Homo sapiens: one gene and its partner. The protein of the gene in region 1 binds, or shares a complex with, the protein of each later gene. Each region holds a gene or a part of one and is shown on either strand. Other genes may lie near its edges.

Region 1 (8,275 bases):
CAGTCCTCCATAGCAAACCGAGATAGGGGATGAGTTGTCCCCATCTCAGTCAACGGTGACTCCATCCCCTCAGTTGCTCAGGCCAAAAACCTCGGAGAGTTCCTTGATTCCTCTCTCTCTCTCACGCTCCAGGACAAGTCCAGTAGCAAAACCTGTTGGCTCTACCCTTAAAACATATGCAGGAAATAAAAGGCATCCAAATTGGAAAGGAAGAAGTAAACTTATTTCTATTCACAGTTGACGGGGTCCTATGCACAGTAAAGCCCAAAGAATACAAAACCCAACAGCTTTTCATGATTTTAAAAAAACACTCGGAAAATAAAATCTGTGTAGATTCCAATCACTCCTCCACCTTCCACTGCTCCCACCTTAGTTGAAGCCACCATCACTTCAGATCATGAGTATGGTCCCTAATCCACCTCCCTAAGCTTGCCCTATCCCCCTTCAATCTCCCATCAGCAGCCAGAGTGAGCTTAAGTCCAGATCAAGTCCCTCCTCTGCTCCACCCCTTCCAGTGCTTCCCAGATTACACAAAGTAGAAGCCAAAATGCTTACTCTGGCTACAAGGCAGGCCCACGCCCGCCCACCTCAGCTCTCTGCTTACATCTGCCCCTTCTCTCCCCCTCACTCACTCTGTTCCAACCCCACTGGCTTGCTTTCTGGGGCTAACCTTCATTGAATGCTTCTAGGTATCAGGCTCTGTGCTAAATACTTTACAGGCACCATCTCACTGAATTCTAAAGAAAATCCTAGGCCAGGCACAGTGGCTCACGCCTGTAATCCCAGCACTTTGGGAGGCCAAGTGGGGGGAAATCATCAGAGGTCAGCAGTTCGAGACCAGCCTGGCCAACATGGTGAAACCCTGTCTCTACTAAAAATCGAAAAAAATTAGCCAGGCGTGGTGGAGGGCGCCTGTAATCCCAGCTACTCGGGAGGCTGAAGAAGGAGAATTGTTTGAACCCGGGAGGCGAAGGTTGTAGTGAGCCGAGATCACGCCACTGCACTCCAGCCTCGGCAACAGAGTAAGACTCCATCTCGGAAAAAAAAAAAAAAAAAAAAAGAGAAAATCCTATGAAGTAGGCCATGCTATTATACTCACTTTGCAGAGGAGGTAACCAAGGCTTGGAGTGGTGACATAACATGGGGAAACCTCTGAAGCCTGCACTGATCTGCACCACCCCACCTACAGTCATGGTCAAAACCTCAGACTTACAGCATGACAGGGCAGGCAGGGGTGGGGTGGGGGATAAGGAGGGGGCAGGAAAAGCCTGGTTGTACAACCTGATGCTGCAAGAAAGGGAATACACACCTTTTGTTCTCACCTGGTTTTCAAAGCTTTCACACAGATCAACTTGTTTACTCTCTCCACAGAGCCAGCAACAGATGCAATGAGCTTCTCTTCTCCCATATACGTTCCATGGCCCCTGATGCAAGGCGAAGATACAAAGAAAGGATACGAGGGTAACTCGAAATGACTTCTCTCCCTTCAAGAACAACGTGTTCCTCAAAGCTAACAGGCTCCCCCTGCAAAGCGTGGCTTCTGTGCTGGCTGCTCCCTCTGCCTTCAGTGCTCCTTCTCCAGACAGCTACTTGGACATCACTCCTCTCACTCAGGTCTGCTCAGGTGTCACTTTCTGCAGCAGGCCTACCTTGACTGTGCCATTGAAAACACAGCCCACCCTGTTGCCACCATTCCCCCCACATACCATTGACCCTGCTCCACTTTTTTCCCTATTGCATTATTGCCTAACATTCTGAATAACTTATTCATTGCGCTTATTATCTATCTCTCCCTGTTAGAACTCCACCAGGACAGAGATTTTTCACTCTGCCATAATAACCCAACTGCACAAAATATATGTTGAAAGCATTAATGAAAGAATGAATCTTAAGATTTCCTAGGGGCCAGGCATGGTGGCTCATGCCTGTAATCCCAGCACTTTGGGAGGCCGAGGCGGGCAGATCACACTTGAGGTCAGGGGATCGAGACCAGCCTGGCCAACACAGTGAAACCCTGTCTCTACTAAAAAAAAAAAAAACCAAAAATTAGCTAGGCATGGTGGCGTGCACCTGTAATCCCAGCTACTCAGGAGGCTGAGGCAGGAGAATCACTTGAACCCAGGAGGCAGAGGTTGCAGTGAGCCGAGATCGCACGACTGATCTAAGACAGACTCCGTCTCAAAAAAGAAAAAAAAATTTCCTGGTATCCACTAACCTTAAACTAACAGGTTAAAGGGCAATGCTATGAATGCTGTGCCCCTTGTACATATACAAGTAAAAAAATAATAATAATAAAGGTTGAAACACTAGTGTTATCTATGATGATATAATGGCTGGTTTTACTTCTTTTCTTACATAATTGTCTCATTTAATCCTCATTACCGTATCATACTGTTATTATCACTATCTTACAGATGAGGAAACTGACCGTGGAGAGGCAATGCCGCTAATAAGATGTGATGGTAGCAGGACCGGAACCCCAACTGTCTGACTCAAGAGCCTTCCCTCTTAACCACAATACACTGCACTACACCCCTTAGATTCAAAATGTGTATAAATGGGTGCATGCAGCACAATGTAACTGTTTGCCCTAAGATCGAACAATTACGGATTCTAAACTGAAGAGGAGGCAGCCAAGAACGCCCACCGTCCCCTCAGAGAGCTGAAAACTGGAAAAGAGCCTGCACCTAACCCTCCCCAGCTTTCCAGGTCTCCCACAAGGAAGGATCAAAGATTTGGACTTCAGGCAGAAGACCCAAAAGTCACAGCCACCGGAGGTCAGGAGTGGAGGGTTTCAGGGAGCTGAGACAAATGCAGACGGGGACACACAAGATGCAGGGAGCAAGAAGCACGAGGCTCGGAAGCGAGGTGTGTAGGATGCTCAGACGAAGTGCCCTGGGTCCCGCGGGGAGTTACACACACAGGGATACGAGGCCTGGACCACGTGCAGAGAGCCCTGAAGCCGCTCTCTGAAGCCTCGACTCCCCCAAGTCCCCACGTACCGCATGAATCCTGTGTCCGTAGTGATTGTATCCCCCGGCACCACTAGATGTTTCTTAGTGTCGCGGCCCAGTCTCTCGCTAAGAGGCTTGCGAGCCACTGGAAGCCTCATCTCCATCGCCATCTTGGCGCCAATGAGTTGCGCAGGCGCAGCTCAGTCGGGAGCTGCGATATCCGACTCCACAACTCCAGGCCGCGTTCGGAGGGGCGGGGAAGGGCGGGGACTCAGAGCAGCTGCCAATGAGAACTCACGGCCTAGAGGCCATGTTTACAATTGGCAACAATAAGGCGAACCCGAAGGGAAGGGAGCCGAGCTGCCATGTCTACTATTGGCAAGGAAGCACCCGTGGAATAATAAAATCTCACGTTGTGTGGCGTGTGACTTTTTACCAAAACTGTCTTGTACTCATCATCCCATTTATTGTTTACCAGGGTTAGAGATAATTGAGAAACGGACCTCTGAGTTTCTGTCCAATTCTAAGCTGCTGAAATCCGATATTTTGTAAGAGAGAGCTCAGGAGGATGGAGAGATGGGATCTACAGAAAACACTATTTGAACAGAAAGAAGAGCCCCTTTCCACACGGTTCCCAGTAGCGCCAGGATTCTACATTGCGGCCGCCCCGTGGGTGCTGGCTCAACATCATCATCTATAACCCCAAACCGGGCTCCAGATACTTCTCACTTGGTTCTGTCCTTTCATAAGGACTCCTTTGAACAAGCTAATTTACTCCAATATTTCTTTTGGAAACAAGTTAAAAATCGTCTAAGAAAACAGGTCAAACCTTGCAAGCCAGGTATATTTGGTAGGGAAGGGAAGAGCACACACAATGCGAAGATCTTGGCTTGCATTTAGTTACACAGCGAGTTGAGCGCTCTCTGTGTGCCAGGCGCTGTTCTAAGGACTCAGCGGGGAACAGACGGATGTCTCTGTGGGTTTTTCTGCGGCTCCGTTTTAATAGGAGGGTACCCCTCGCCCCTTCTCCCCGTCCCCCACTACCCTCTCCCTCTCCTTGCCCTGCATTCACAAGAAACTAATTGGGGATGGTAACTCCCCATGCACAGGGACTCTAAAGACGATTAAATGAAATCATTGGCATCAGCTGTGGTCAGTAAAGCCGGTAAACCAAGTCCGCCTCCTGAAGAAAGATCCATCGAGCCAATTGTTTTATAAATCTCCAAAGCGACAGCATTTCTTCCACTTAAGCAAGTCTCACGACCACACTTAAGAAAGCCAGCCCTGCCAGGCAGTCGATGACATGAATGCTAGTGCCCCGAGGCCCTGGGTAAGCGGGCTGCCAGACCCTCGCCCTCTGCCGTGCCTGGAGGAAGGCACTAGAGCCCAGCCCCTCGGTCCAGTCCTGCCGCGGCCATAAGAGGGCGATGGTGTCCTCTGAGCTCGCGTAGCCCGGCAGCCGGGGAGCCAGGCCCAGCGAGCGGCCCTAGGCGGAGCGAGAGTGTAGGCCTGACACCATCCAAGTTCTTCCCGGGAGGGAGAGACGTCGCCTTTACCCCGCGCATTCTCACAGCGTTCACAAGGTTGGCATTGTGGATACCAGTTTATGGAGGAGGAAATCGAGGCCCCAAAAGGAATGGAATTCACATTAGCAGATGGCTGCAAAGCCGATGTGTGTTCCAACTGCACGCGATTTACCCCAGAGCCTGCACCCTTTACCAGAAATAGCCCGAGTGCTTCGGCTGGTCCTTTGCTGAGTGCTTTACAAATACTATGTTATGTATTCCTCACTTTCAGCCCATCTTCGAGATAGGCATTGCTATCCCTGATGATCACTTGGGGCCACCGAGCCCCCCAAACAGACCCGTAACTGGGACTAGAATCCAAAACGACAGGGACTCCCCCTCTCCCATCCCCAGTGCTCCTCTTTCTGCATCATCACACGCACCTTTTTTTATTTTTATTTTTTTCGAGACAGAGTCTTTGTCACCCAGGCTGGAGTACAATGACACGATTATGGCTTACTGCAGCCTCGTCCTCCTGGGCTCAGGTAATCCTACCACCTCAGCCTCTTGAATAGCTTGGACTACAGGCACATGCCACCAGGCTCGGCTAATTTTTTGTATTTGTCTTGTGAAGACAGGGTTTCACCGTGTTGCCCAACCTGATCTCGAACTCCTAAACTCAAGTGATCCGCCCACCTTGGCCTCCCAAAGTGCTGGGATTACAGGCATGAGCCACCAAGCCCGGCCACACTTACCCCTTTACGACCAGTAGACAAGTGGGTACCCGGAGACGAAGCAGCACATCCCAGGGGGCTTGTAAAAAGTATAGATTCCTTAGGCATTGAGGCTGTAAACCCCGAATATCTGAGACAGGTCTCAGTTAATTTAGAAAGTTTATTTCACCAAGATTGAGGATGTGCCTGTGGCACAAGCTCAGGAGGTCCTGACAACCTGTGCCCAAGGTGGTCGGAGCGCAGTTTGGTTTTATACATTTTGGGGAGACATGAGGCATCAATCAACATATGTGAGATGAATATTGGTTCGGTCTGGAAAGGCTGGACAACTCGAAGCTGGGAAGGGGCTTCCTGGTGATAGGTAGATAAGAAACAAATGGTTGAGGCCAGGCGCGGTGGCTCACGCCTGTAATCCCAGCACTTTGGGAGGCCGAGGTGGGCGGATCACGAGGTCAGGAGATCGAGACTACCCTGGCTAACACGGTGAAACCCCGTCTCTACTAAAAATACAAAAAAAAAAAAAAAAAAAAAATTAGCCGGGTATGGTGGCTGGTGCCTGTAGTCCCAGTTACTCGGGAGGCTGAGGCAGGAGAATGGCTTCAACCCGGGACGCGGAGTTTGCAGTGAGCCGAGATCGCACCGCTGTACTCCAGCCTGGGCGACAGAGTGAGACTCCGTCTCAAAAAAAAAAAAAAAAAAAAAGAAAGAAAAAAGAAACAAATGGTTGCATTTTTTGTATTTTTAGTTTCTGATTAGCGTCTCCAAAGGAGGCAATCAGGTATGCATTTATCTCAGTGAGCAGAGGGGTGACTTTGAATAGAACGGGAGGCAGGTTTGCCCTAAGCAGTTCCCAGCTTGACTTACTTTTCCCTTTAGCTTAGTGATTTTGGGGCCCCAAGATTTATTTGCCTTTCACAAGGCTCTGCAAAGGTAAGGTCCAGAAGTCTGTGCGTGTTTTAACTCCCTATGTAATTTCAATGGCGGAAAAGGTCTAAGATTCACTGATGCCACACATCTGTGCATCTCCGCAGCCACTGCCCCAGGCTGATCAACGGCATCTCTTACCAGGGAGATAACCTCCTAGCTTGTCTTCCTAATTCTACTTTTGTCCTTCCTATCATCCAATCTCCGCACAGCAGCCAGAGAGAGCTTTAAAAACAGATTAAATCACTTCTCTGCTTCCAGCACTTCTTGACTCCTGCCTGTCTCTGACCTCACGCTCGTCCTAACCCACTGCGTTACTCACTATGCTGCAGCCGGACTGTTAACGGTGGAGGGTGCCCAGCTTCTCGGCGTCTTGGACAAAACATACAGACAAAACAAGGAAAGAATAAAGCAACAAAAGCAGAGATTTATTGAAAACGAAAGTACACTCTACAGGGCAAGAACAGCTCAAGCAAAGAAACTCAACAGGCTCCTTACAGAAGTTTCTGGGGTTTAAATACCCTCTAAAGGTTTCCCATTGGTTATTTGGTGTACGCCCTGTGTAAATGAAGGAGTGGCCCGTGATCAGTCTGATTGGTTGTGGAAAGTGGCCAATCAGAGGCTGAAGTTAAAAGTTACACCCTACGCCAATGTCTGATTGGCTGTGGAAAGTTATCAATCAGAGGCTGAAGTGAAGTTACAAAGTTATACTCCCATGCAAATGAAGACTTGGCCACCTACCAGCCTGACTGGTAGTGGGAAGGGAGCAATCAGAGGTACTTTCAGTTTTTCATCTGCACACAGAAAAGCTGGGATTGCAAAGGGAGTAGCCTCTGGTCCTTTGGTTACTTGGACGTGGAAAGTTGGGGTTTTCCTTTTGATTTAGTTCTAGAAAGTCAGTGTGAATCAGCCTTATGTTCCCTGCCTCCAGACCCTATTCTCCTGCCTCAAGACTAGCTGGCTTCCCCTCGGTTCCACAGCACCAAGCTTCTCATCACTCCAGGGCCCTTCACTCTGGTCTCTTTCTGCATGAATTCTCTTCTCCCAGGCTTTTGTGTGGCTGGCTCCTTCTCCTCACTCATGGCTTGCTCAAACATCACCTCCTCAGAGAAGACTTCCCTGATCACCTTATCTGGAATAACTTTCCAGTCCTTTTTTTTAATCCCTTGATCCTGTTTTACTTCTTGTCACTGATTTTTCTTTTTCTTTTCTTTTCTTTCTTTTTTGAGAGAGAGACTTGGTCTTGTCACCCAGGCTGGAGTGCAATGGCGCGATCTCAGCTCACTGCAACCTCTGCCTCCTGGGTTAAAGAGATTCTCCTGCCTCAGCCTCCGGAGTAGCTGGGATTACAGGAACCCATCACCACGCCCAGCTAATTTTTGTATTTTTAGGAAATACGGGGTTTCACCATGTTGGCCAGGCTTGTTTCAATCTCCTGACCTGAAGTGATCTGCCCACCTTGGCCTCCCACAGTGCTGGGATTACAGGTGTGAGCCACCATGCCTGGGCTTCAATTTTCTTTCTTTTTTTTTTTTTTTTTGTTCATTGATTGCAGTCTCCCCCCACTAGAACATGCATTGCTGAAAACAGGGACTTTATCTATTCTGTTCATCATATATCAATGCTTAGATCCAGGCCTGGCACACAGGGCAGCCATAAAATATTTGTTGAAAAAAATACAATATATTTACAAAATACAGATTTGCTTGTCTGCTCATCGCCTGTCTTCCCACAGGATATGAGCCCCACCAATACCCAGACTGTCCATTTGGTTCACTGCCCATTTCGTATATATGCTTGATATATAGTAGGCCCTTGTATTAAGCATGCATTTGCTCTTTTTTTTTTTTTTTTTTTTTTTTTTGAGACGGAATCCTGCTCTGTCGCCCAGGCTAGAGTGCAATAGTGTGGTCTCTGCTCACTGCAACCTCTGCCTCCTGGGCTCAAGCGATTCTCCTCTTGAACCTACTGCAGCCTCCTGAGTAGCTGGGATTTTAGGCACCTGCCACCACGCCTGGCTAATTTCTGTATTTTTAGTAGAGACGGGGTTTCACCATGTTGGCCAGGCTGTTCTCGAACTCCTAACCTGGTGATCCACCCGCCTCGGCCTCCCAAAGTGCTGGGATTACAGGTATGAGCCACTGTGCCCAGAGCCTTT
Region 2 (7,830 bases), on another chromosome or scaffold:
TGACCCAAGGGTTAGTCAGGACATTTCAGTTTTTTGTTGTTCCCTCTGTAGCTTCCAGTGGTGTCTGTAGTGAGAGAAACAGAGTCCCAGTTACTGCCAGATGTGGGAGCTATTGTAACCTGTAAGGTAAGTTGGTCCTGACCTCCATGCTTAGAATGCCCATTCAATACTGAAATCATGACCATACCAGAACTGCAGTGTCCAGTATGATAGCCACAAGCTACATAAATTTATTTCTGGCAGGGCACAGTGGCTCACACTGGTAATTCTAGCACTTTAAGAGGCCGAGGCAGGAGGATTGCTTCAGCCCAGAGTTCAAGACCAGCCTGGGAAACATAGTGAAACCTCATCTCTACAAAAAGAATCAAAAATTGCCGGGCATGGTGGCTCATGCTTGTAATCCCAGCACTTTGGGAGGCCGAGGTGGGCAGATCACCTGTGGTCAGGAGTTCAAGACCAGCCTGGCCAATCATGGCCAACATGGTGAAACCCTGTCTCTACCAAAAATACAAAAATTAGCTTAGCGTGGTGGTGCATGCCTGTAATCCCAGCTACTCGGGAGGCTGAGGCAGGAGAAGTGCTTGAACCCAGGAGGTGGAGGTTGCAGTGAGCCTGCGTCACAGCAGTCCAGCCTGGGCAACAGAGTGAGACTCCGTCTCAAAAAAAAAGAAGAAGAAGAATAAAAAATTAGCCAGGCATGGTAGCACATGCTTGTGGTCCCAACTACTTGGGAGGCTGAAGCAGGAAGATCGCTTGGGCCCAGGGGGTTGAGGCTGCAGTGAGCCATGATCACTCCAGCTTGGGTAACAGGGCAAGACTCTGTCTCTCAAGAAAAAAATAAAATTGATTTCCTTAGTCACATTAGCCACATTTCAAGTACTCAATAGCCACTTGTGGCTAGTGGTTGCTATACTGGTCAGCACATGACTTTTCTGTCATCACAGAAAGTTTTACTGGACTGTGCAGGCTTACAGATTTCTAGGATAATAATCAAGGCAGCCAAGTTCAGGCATGCATAGTTCCTTCACTGAGCTGATTCCCTGAATACATAGTTCTACCTGTGTCTGGGAAACAGGGATGCCAGAGGATGATTAGGAGGCCTATTTTTGAACATCTGAAGCTGAGTTCTTTTTCTGCAGAGAAGCAAAAGACTTTATTTTTTGCCATTCCTGTTTTTTTTTTTTTGAGACAGGGCCTTGCTCTGTCACCCAGGCTGGAGTGCAGTGGCACGATCTCGGCTCACTGCAGCCTCTGGCCTCTTGGGTTCAAGCAATTCTACTGCCTCTGCCTCCCGAGTAGCTGGGATTATAGGCATGTGCTGCCACGCCTGGCTAATTTTTGTATTTTTAGTACAGGTGGGGTTTTACCATGTTGGCCAGGCTGGTCCTGAACTCCTGACCTCAAGTGATGCGCCCACCTCAGCCTCCCAAAGTGCTGGGATTACAGGCATGAGCCACTGTGTCCAGCCTCTTTTTTTTTTTTTTTTTTAATTGTTAGCCATCTATACTTTAAAAAGTCTATACCTCTCTGAAGGGCAAGTTGTGAAAAGATTTAAAAAAAAAAAAAAAAACCCAGCCGGATGCAGTGGCTTACACCTGTAATCCCAGCACTTTGGGAGGCTGAAGCAGGCGAATCACCTGAGATCAGGAGTTCGAGACCAGCCTGACCAACATGGAGAAACCCTGTCTCTACTAGAAATACAAAATTAGCTGGGCATGGTGGTGCATGCCTGTAATCCCAGCTATTCAGGAGGCTAAGGCAGGAGAATTATTTGAACCCAGGAGGCGGAGGTTGCGGTGAGCCAAGATCGCGCCATTGCACTCCAGCCTGGGCAACAAGAGTGAAACTCCGTCTCAAAAAAAAAAAAAAAAAAAAACCCATACCACCTTTGTTTCCCATAGTAACTCTACCAGGTGGCCAGAGTGGCTCTTATTCCTCTTTACATGTGTCACTTACGCAGAGAGAAGTAGGAGTTAATTTGTCTTAAATTCTCTACTTAGTAGGGTTGCTTGCACTGAAGCCCTAGTAATCCCCAGTTTATTGCTGCCTCCTTGAGCTGACAACTGCTTATACTCTGATGCTGATCTTTTCTCTATTCCGCAGGTCTCTAGCATCAATTCACGCTTTGCCAAAGTACACATCCTGTATGTGGGGTCCATGCCTCTTAAGAACTCTTTTCGAGGAACTATCCGGTAAGAAGTATCCTTTTCACATATACCTTAGCAACTGGAATAAGATTAGGATAGACTAGGACACCAGAATTTTGAGCAACAGTTACAATTCCTATTTTTCTTTTGCCCGTTTTTCTTTCTTCTTTGTGCTTTGATTCTCCCCTAGTAGTATCCAAAAAATACATGGATGATCTAGGACAAAAGGAAAATATTAACGAGAGGGTTTAAAAGTAAAGCAAAGGCTGGGCGCGGTGGCTCACGCCTGTTATCCTAGCACTTTGAGAAGCTGAGGCGGGTGGATCTCTTGAGATCAGGAGTTTGAGACCAGCCTAGCCAACATGGTGAAACCCCATCTCTGTAAAAAATACAAAAATTAGCCAGGCACAGTGGCTCACACCTGTAATCCTATCACTTTGGGAGGCTGAGGTGGGTGGATCACAAAGTCAGGGGTTTGAGACCAGCCTGGCCAGTGTGGTGAAACCCTGTCTCTACTAAAAATACAAAAACTAGCCGGACATGTTGGCGTGTGCCTGTAATCCCAGCTGCTCAGGAGGCTGAAGCCAAAGAATCGCTTGAACCCAGGAGGCAGAGGTTGCAGTGAGCCAAGATTGCGCCATTGCACTCCAGCCTGGGGGACAGAGCGAGACTCTGTCTTTAAAAAAAAAAAAAAAAAAAATTAGCTGGGCATGGTGGTGCGTGCCTGTACTCCCAGCTACTTGTGGAGCTGAAGCAGGAAGATCACTTGAGCCTAGGAGGCAGAGGTTGCAGTGAGCTGAGATTGCACCACTGCACTCTAGCCTGGGCAACAGAGTGAGACCCTGTCTCAAAAAACAAATAAATAAATAAAAGGTAAAGCAAAAAGAATTGAGTGAAGCTGAAGTTTAGCAGTGTCAGGATGACTCAAACCAAAGTAGAAGGCAGGCTGGGCGTGGTGGCTCATGCCTGTAATCCCAGCACTTTGGGAGGCCGAGGCGGGCGGATCACCTGAGGTCGGGAGTTCGAGACCAGCCTGACCAACATGGAGAAACACCGTCTCTACTAAAAATACAAAATTAGCCAGGCGTGGTGGCACATGCCTATAATCCCAGCTACTAGGGAGGCTGAGGCAGGAGAATCACTTGAACCTGGGAGGCGGAGCTTGCGGTGAGCCAAGATCGTGCCATTGTACTCCAGCCTGGGCAACAAGAGTGAAACTCCGTCTCAAAAAAAAAAAAAAAAAAAGTAGAAGGCATTTTAGGAAGCACTTTAAAATTTAATATAGATTGAACTCAGAGGTTATAAAACATTGAAAAGATTTGTGGGTGAGATGGTGATTTCGTGTGGCTTCCTTGAGAAAGGACAAACATTTCTTGCCAGGCAGATAATCTAACTTTTGAGGCCCTTTCCAGCCTCAGGATTTGATGTGGTTCTGTAGTGCAGCAGTCCCCAACCTTTTTGGCACCAGGGACCAGTTTCTTGGAAGACAGTTTTTCCACAGACCATGGAGGGGGTGGTTGCAGAATGATTCAAGTGCATTACATTTATGGTGCACTTTATTTCTGTTATTATTACACTGTAATATATAATGAAATAATTATACAGCTCACCATAATATAGAATCAGCGGGAGCCCTGAGTTTGTTTCCCTGCAATTCGATGGTCCCATCTGGGGGTGATGGGAGACAGTGACAGATCATCAGGCATTAGATTCTCATAAGGAGTGGGCAGCCTAGCTCCCTCATATGTGCAGTTCACAATAGGGTTCATACTTCTATGAGAATCTAATGCCCACTTCGATCTGACAGGAGGCGGAGCTCAGGCAGTAATGTATGCGATTGGGAAGCAGCTGTAAATACAGATGAAGCTTGCCTGCCACTCACTTCCTTCTATGCAGCCCGGTTCCTCACAGGCCACCAGAAGTTGGGGGCCCTTGCTATAGTGCTTCTGTTCAAGCCCTGAGGCAACGAAATTCCTTATCCTTTCTTGCCAAATCCGATCTGCCTTTATCTAATCAGAGGTATTGATACTGCCTCTCCATGTGGTCTGAGGATGCTTCTCCACCCTGCTCCTCTGGGTAGCAGCTGTGTCCCATTTACAACTTGTTCTGTCTGTTCTTGTAGCTCTTTATTTACTAGGAATCTACAGAATAATTCTTTCTCACAGGCTGGGCAAGGTGACTCATGCCTGTAATCCCAGCACTTTGGGAAGCTGAGGCGGGTGGATCACCTGAGGTCAGGAGTTCAAGACCAGCCTGGCCAACATGGTGAAACCCCATCTCTACTAAAAATACAAAAAACTAGCTGGGCATGGCGGACGTGCCTGTAATTCCAGCTGCTTGAGAGGCTGAGGCACGAGAATTGCTTGAACCCAGGAGGCGGAGGTTGCAGTGAGCAAAATTGCGCCACTGTACTCCAGCCTGGGTGACAGAGGGAGACTCTGTCTCAAAAAAAAAAAAAAAAAAAATTCTTTCTCACAGGTAATTAATCTTTCTGTTAATTCTTTTTTTATAGCAAGGAAGATGTCCGAGCAACTGAAAAAGACAAGGTTGTTGGTTGGTTCTTTTTTTTTAATGGCTTTACGTATCTCAATCCCTTAAAAGTATTATCTCAGGCCAGGCATGGTCACACACACCCGTAATCCCAGTACTTTGGGAGGCTGAGGCGGGAGGATCACTTGAGTCCAGGACTTCAAGACCAGCCCTGGCAACATAGCGAGACCCTGTCTCTACAAAAATTTTAAAAATTCAAAAATTGGCCAGGCATGGTAGCTCATGCCTGTAGTCCCAGCTGCTTGAGAGGATGTGGCTGGAGGATTGCTTGAGCCCAGGAGTTTGAGGTTAAGTGGTGGCACGCACCTGTAGTCCTAGCTACTTGGGAGGCTGAGGCAGGAGGATCCCTTGGTCCAGCAGTCCAAGGCTGCAGTGAGCTACCATTGCATCACTGCACTCCAGCCTGGGTGACACAGTGGGATCCCACCTCTTAAAAAAAAAGAAAAAAGGGCCGGGTGCAGTGGATCACACCTGTAATCCCAGCTCTTTGGGAGGCCAAGGTGGGCGGATCACAAGGTCAGGAGTTCAAGACCAGCCTGACCAACATGGTGAAACCCCGTCTCTACTAAAAATATAAAAACTAGCCTGTGTCGTGCCATGCACCTATAATCCCAGCTACTCAGGAGGCTGAGGCAGGAGAATCGCTTGAACCCGGGAGGCAGAGGTTGCAGTGAGCCGAGATCGCACCACTGCACTCCAGTGTGGGCGACAGAGCGAGACTCCATCTCAAAAAAAAAAAATTTTCATTTGTATGATAATACTGTAGAAGCAATTAAAAGTTCTTGACTTGACATGAGTAATGATGATTTCTACCCTCCAGGATTAGAAAGTAGATTGGCTTTACCAGAAGCGTTCACAGTTTCATATAGACCCAGTCTAGAGCTTTCACTTAACATTCCTGTTCTTTCTTTACAGGTTGAAATTTATAAGAGTTTCCGCCCAGGTGACATTGTCTTGGCCAAAGTGGTATCCTTTATTCCCAGCAGACTTCTGGTCCTTTGTCAAAAGAAGAGAAGGAGGCCGGGTGTGGTGGCTCATGCCTGTAATCCCAGCACTTTCGGAGGCCAGGGCGGGTGGATCACCTGAGGTCAGGAGTTCGAGACCAGCCTGGACAACATGGTGAAACCCTGTCTCTACTAAAAATACAAAAATTAGCTGGGCGTGGTGGCACATGCCTGTAATCCCAGCTATTCGGGAAGCTGAGGCAGGAGAACCGCTTGAACCTGTGAGGCAGAGGTTGTGAACTGATATCACGCCACCGCACTCCAGCCTGGTTAACGGAGCAAGACTCCATCTCAGAAAAAAAAAAAGGTAGAAAAACAACTCAGGTGGCTAAGGTGGGGGAAGACTTCTAACTCCTCATTTTCCTTCACCGGTGTTATGTGACTAGATCTCCTTAGGTGATGCACAGTCCAACTACCTGCTAACCACCGCCGAGAACGAGCTGGGAGTGGTGGTAGCCCACAGTGAGTCAGGTGAGATGGCCTTGTTTCCACATCCTTACTTTCCCTGGATCTATGGTTTGGGATAAATCCATTGTTTTTCCTGGTTTCCCTTATCTGGGAAGCAGTATGGCTATAGATATTTCCCTCTGAGATTAGAATGATTATTTTTTTCTTTTTTGCTTGGTGCTGGTGGTGGTGGTTGTTTGAGACAGGGTCTCACTTTGTCGAGGAGGCTGGAGTGCAGTGGTGCCATCTCCACTCACCACAGCCTCCACCTCCTTGGTTCAAGCAATTCTTGTCACCCAAGTAGCTGGGATTACAGACACACGCCACCACACCTAGCTAATTTTTGTATTTTTAGTAGAGACAGGGTTTCGCCATGTTGGCCAGGCTGGTCTCAAACTCCTGGCCTCAAATGATCTGCCCGCCTTGGCCTCCCAAAGTGCTGGGATTACAGGTGTGAGCCACCACGCCCAGCCTGATTCTCCTTATATAAATCCAAGGAAACGGGACTCACTTCATAAGTCAGTAGAATGAACAAAGTTTTTTCTTTATGAGTTGAGGTTCAGTAGGAAGCTTGGTGGCACTTCAGCTTCATACCCAGCATAAAAGAGGAGTCGCAGGCAAATCTTTGGGGTCTGGGCTCCACCACCAGCTTTTCCCTTCCAGGTATCCAGATGGTTCCCATCAGCTGGTGTGAGATGCAGTGCCCTAAGACCCACACTAAAGAATTCCGGAAAGTAGCCCGAGTACAACCCGAATTCTTGCAGACCTAAGAAGCCACTTTTTACCCTATGGAAGGGGGTAAGCTGTTCCTGAGTATAACACCAAGATGCTGCTGTCTTTATTCAAACACCTGGCGTCGGCCAACAGCCACTTCCAGAAAAATCTTCCAGTTTACGCTGTAGATGGAACATGTTTCTGTGAACCTATCAGTGGATTTCATTCTCTTGAGTAATAAATCTTATCTTTTCAAGGCACCAACAAACAAAACTGTGATATTGGAAATAGCCTATCCCTCCTGACAGTCCTTATAAATACATATTTTTTGCTATGATAAAACTTTTTTACTAAAAGGATGTTATAGAGTCTGTTGTCTTAAGCAGAGAAAGACATCTAAATGGTGTCAGGACATTTCAGTACTTCTGCTTATTGAGTACTTACTGTGCTAGGCACTGAGTCAGGTGCTTTACATACGTCCCCTTCATTTAGGTACATTGTGATTTAATGAAAATTTGAGGACACGTGGTGATACAGATAGCATGTGAGGCAGGCATGGTGGCTCATGTTTGTAAATCCCAGCACTTTGGGAGGCCGAGTTGGGTTGAAGTCAGGAGTTTGAGACCAGCCTGGCCAACATGGTGAAACCCCATCTCTACTAAAAATACAAAAATTAGCCGGGCGTGGTGGCACATGCCTGTAATCCCAACTACTCAGGAAGCTGAGGCAGGAAGATCGCTTGAACCCTGGAGGCAGAGGTTGTAGTGAACCGAGATTGCACCACTGCACTCCAGCCTGGACAACAGAGCGAGACTCTGTCTCAAAATAAATAAATAAATAACATGTCTAAAAGTATTTGATACACATCACTGATATAGTGGGTACTCCAGGAAATGTTAAATCTGAATTGAAAAGTGGGACAGAGTACTGTCATATGAGGTGGCCAGGAAAGGATTAGTGACGTGAGA

Evidence for each region.
Region 2: EXOSC2 (region 1) and EXOSC1 share a complex: the UniProt entries of both Homo sapiens proteins name them as parts of the RNA exosome core complex.

The regions. Positions count from the first base shown.
Region 1 is NC_000009.12:130,688,641-130,696,915, reverse strand, and holds the start of EXOSC2 (exosome complex component RRP4), read right to left. Parts: upstream 3,137-8,275; 5' UTR 3,125-3,136; coding exon 3,003-3,124; intron 1,425-3,002; coding exon 1,323-1,424; exon of another isoform or gene 1,310-1,322; intron 1-1,309. UniProt on the Homo sapiens protein: Non-catalytic component of the RNA exosome complex which has 3'->5' exoribonuclease activity and participates in a multitude of cellular RNA processing and degradation events.
Region 2 is NC_000010.11:97,435,533-97,443,362, reverse strand, and holds the end of EXOSC1 (exosome complex component CSL4), read left to right. Parts: intron 1-51; coding exon 52-126; intron 127-2,103; coding exon 2,104-2,192; intron 2,193-4,659; coding exon 4,660-4,693; coding exon of another isoform or gene 4,694-4,700; intron 4,701-5,612; coding exon 5,613-5,663; intron 5,664-6,087; coding exon 6,088-6,172; intron 6,173-6,811; coding exon 6,812-6,918; 3' UTR 6,919-7,454; downstream 7,455-7,830. UniProt on the Homo sapiens protein: Non-catalytic component of the RNA exosome complex which has 3'->5' exoribonuclease activity and participates in a multitude of cellular RNA processing and degradation events.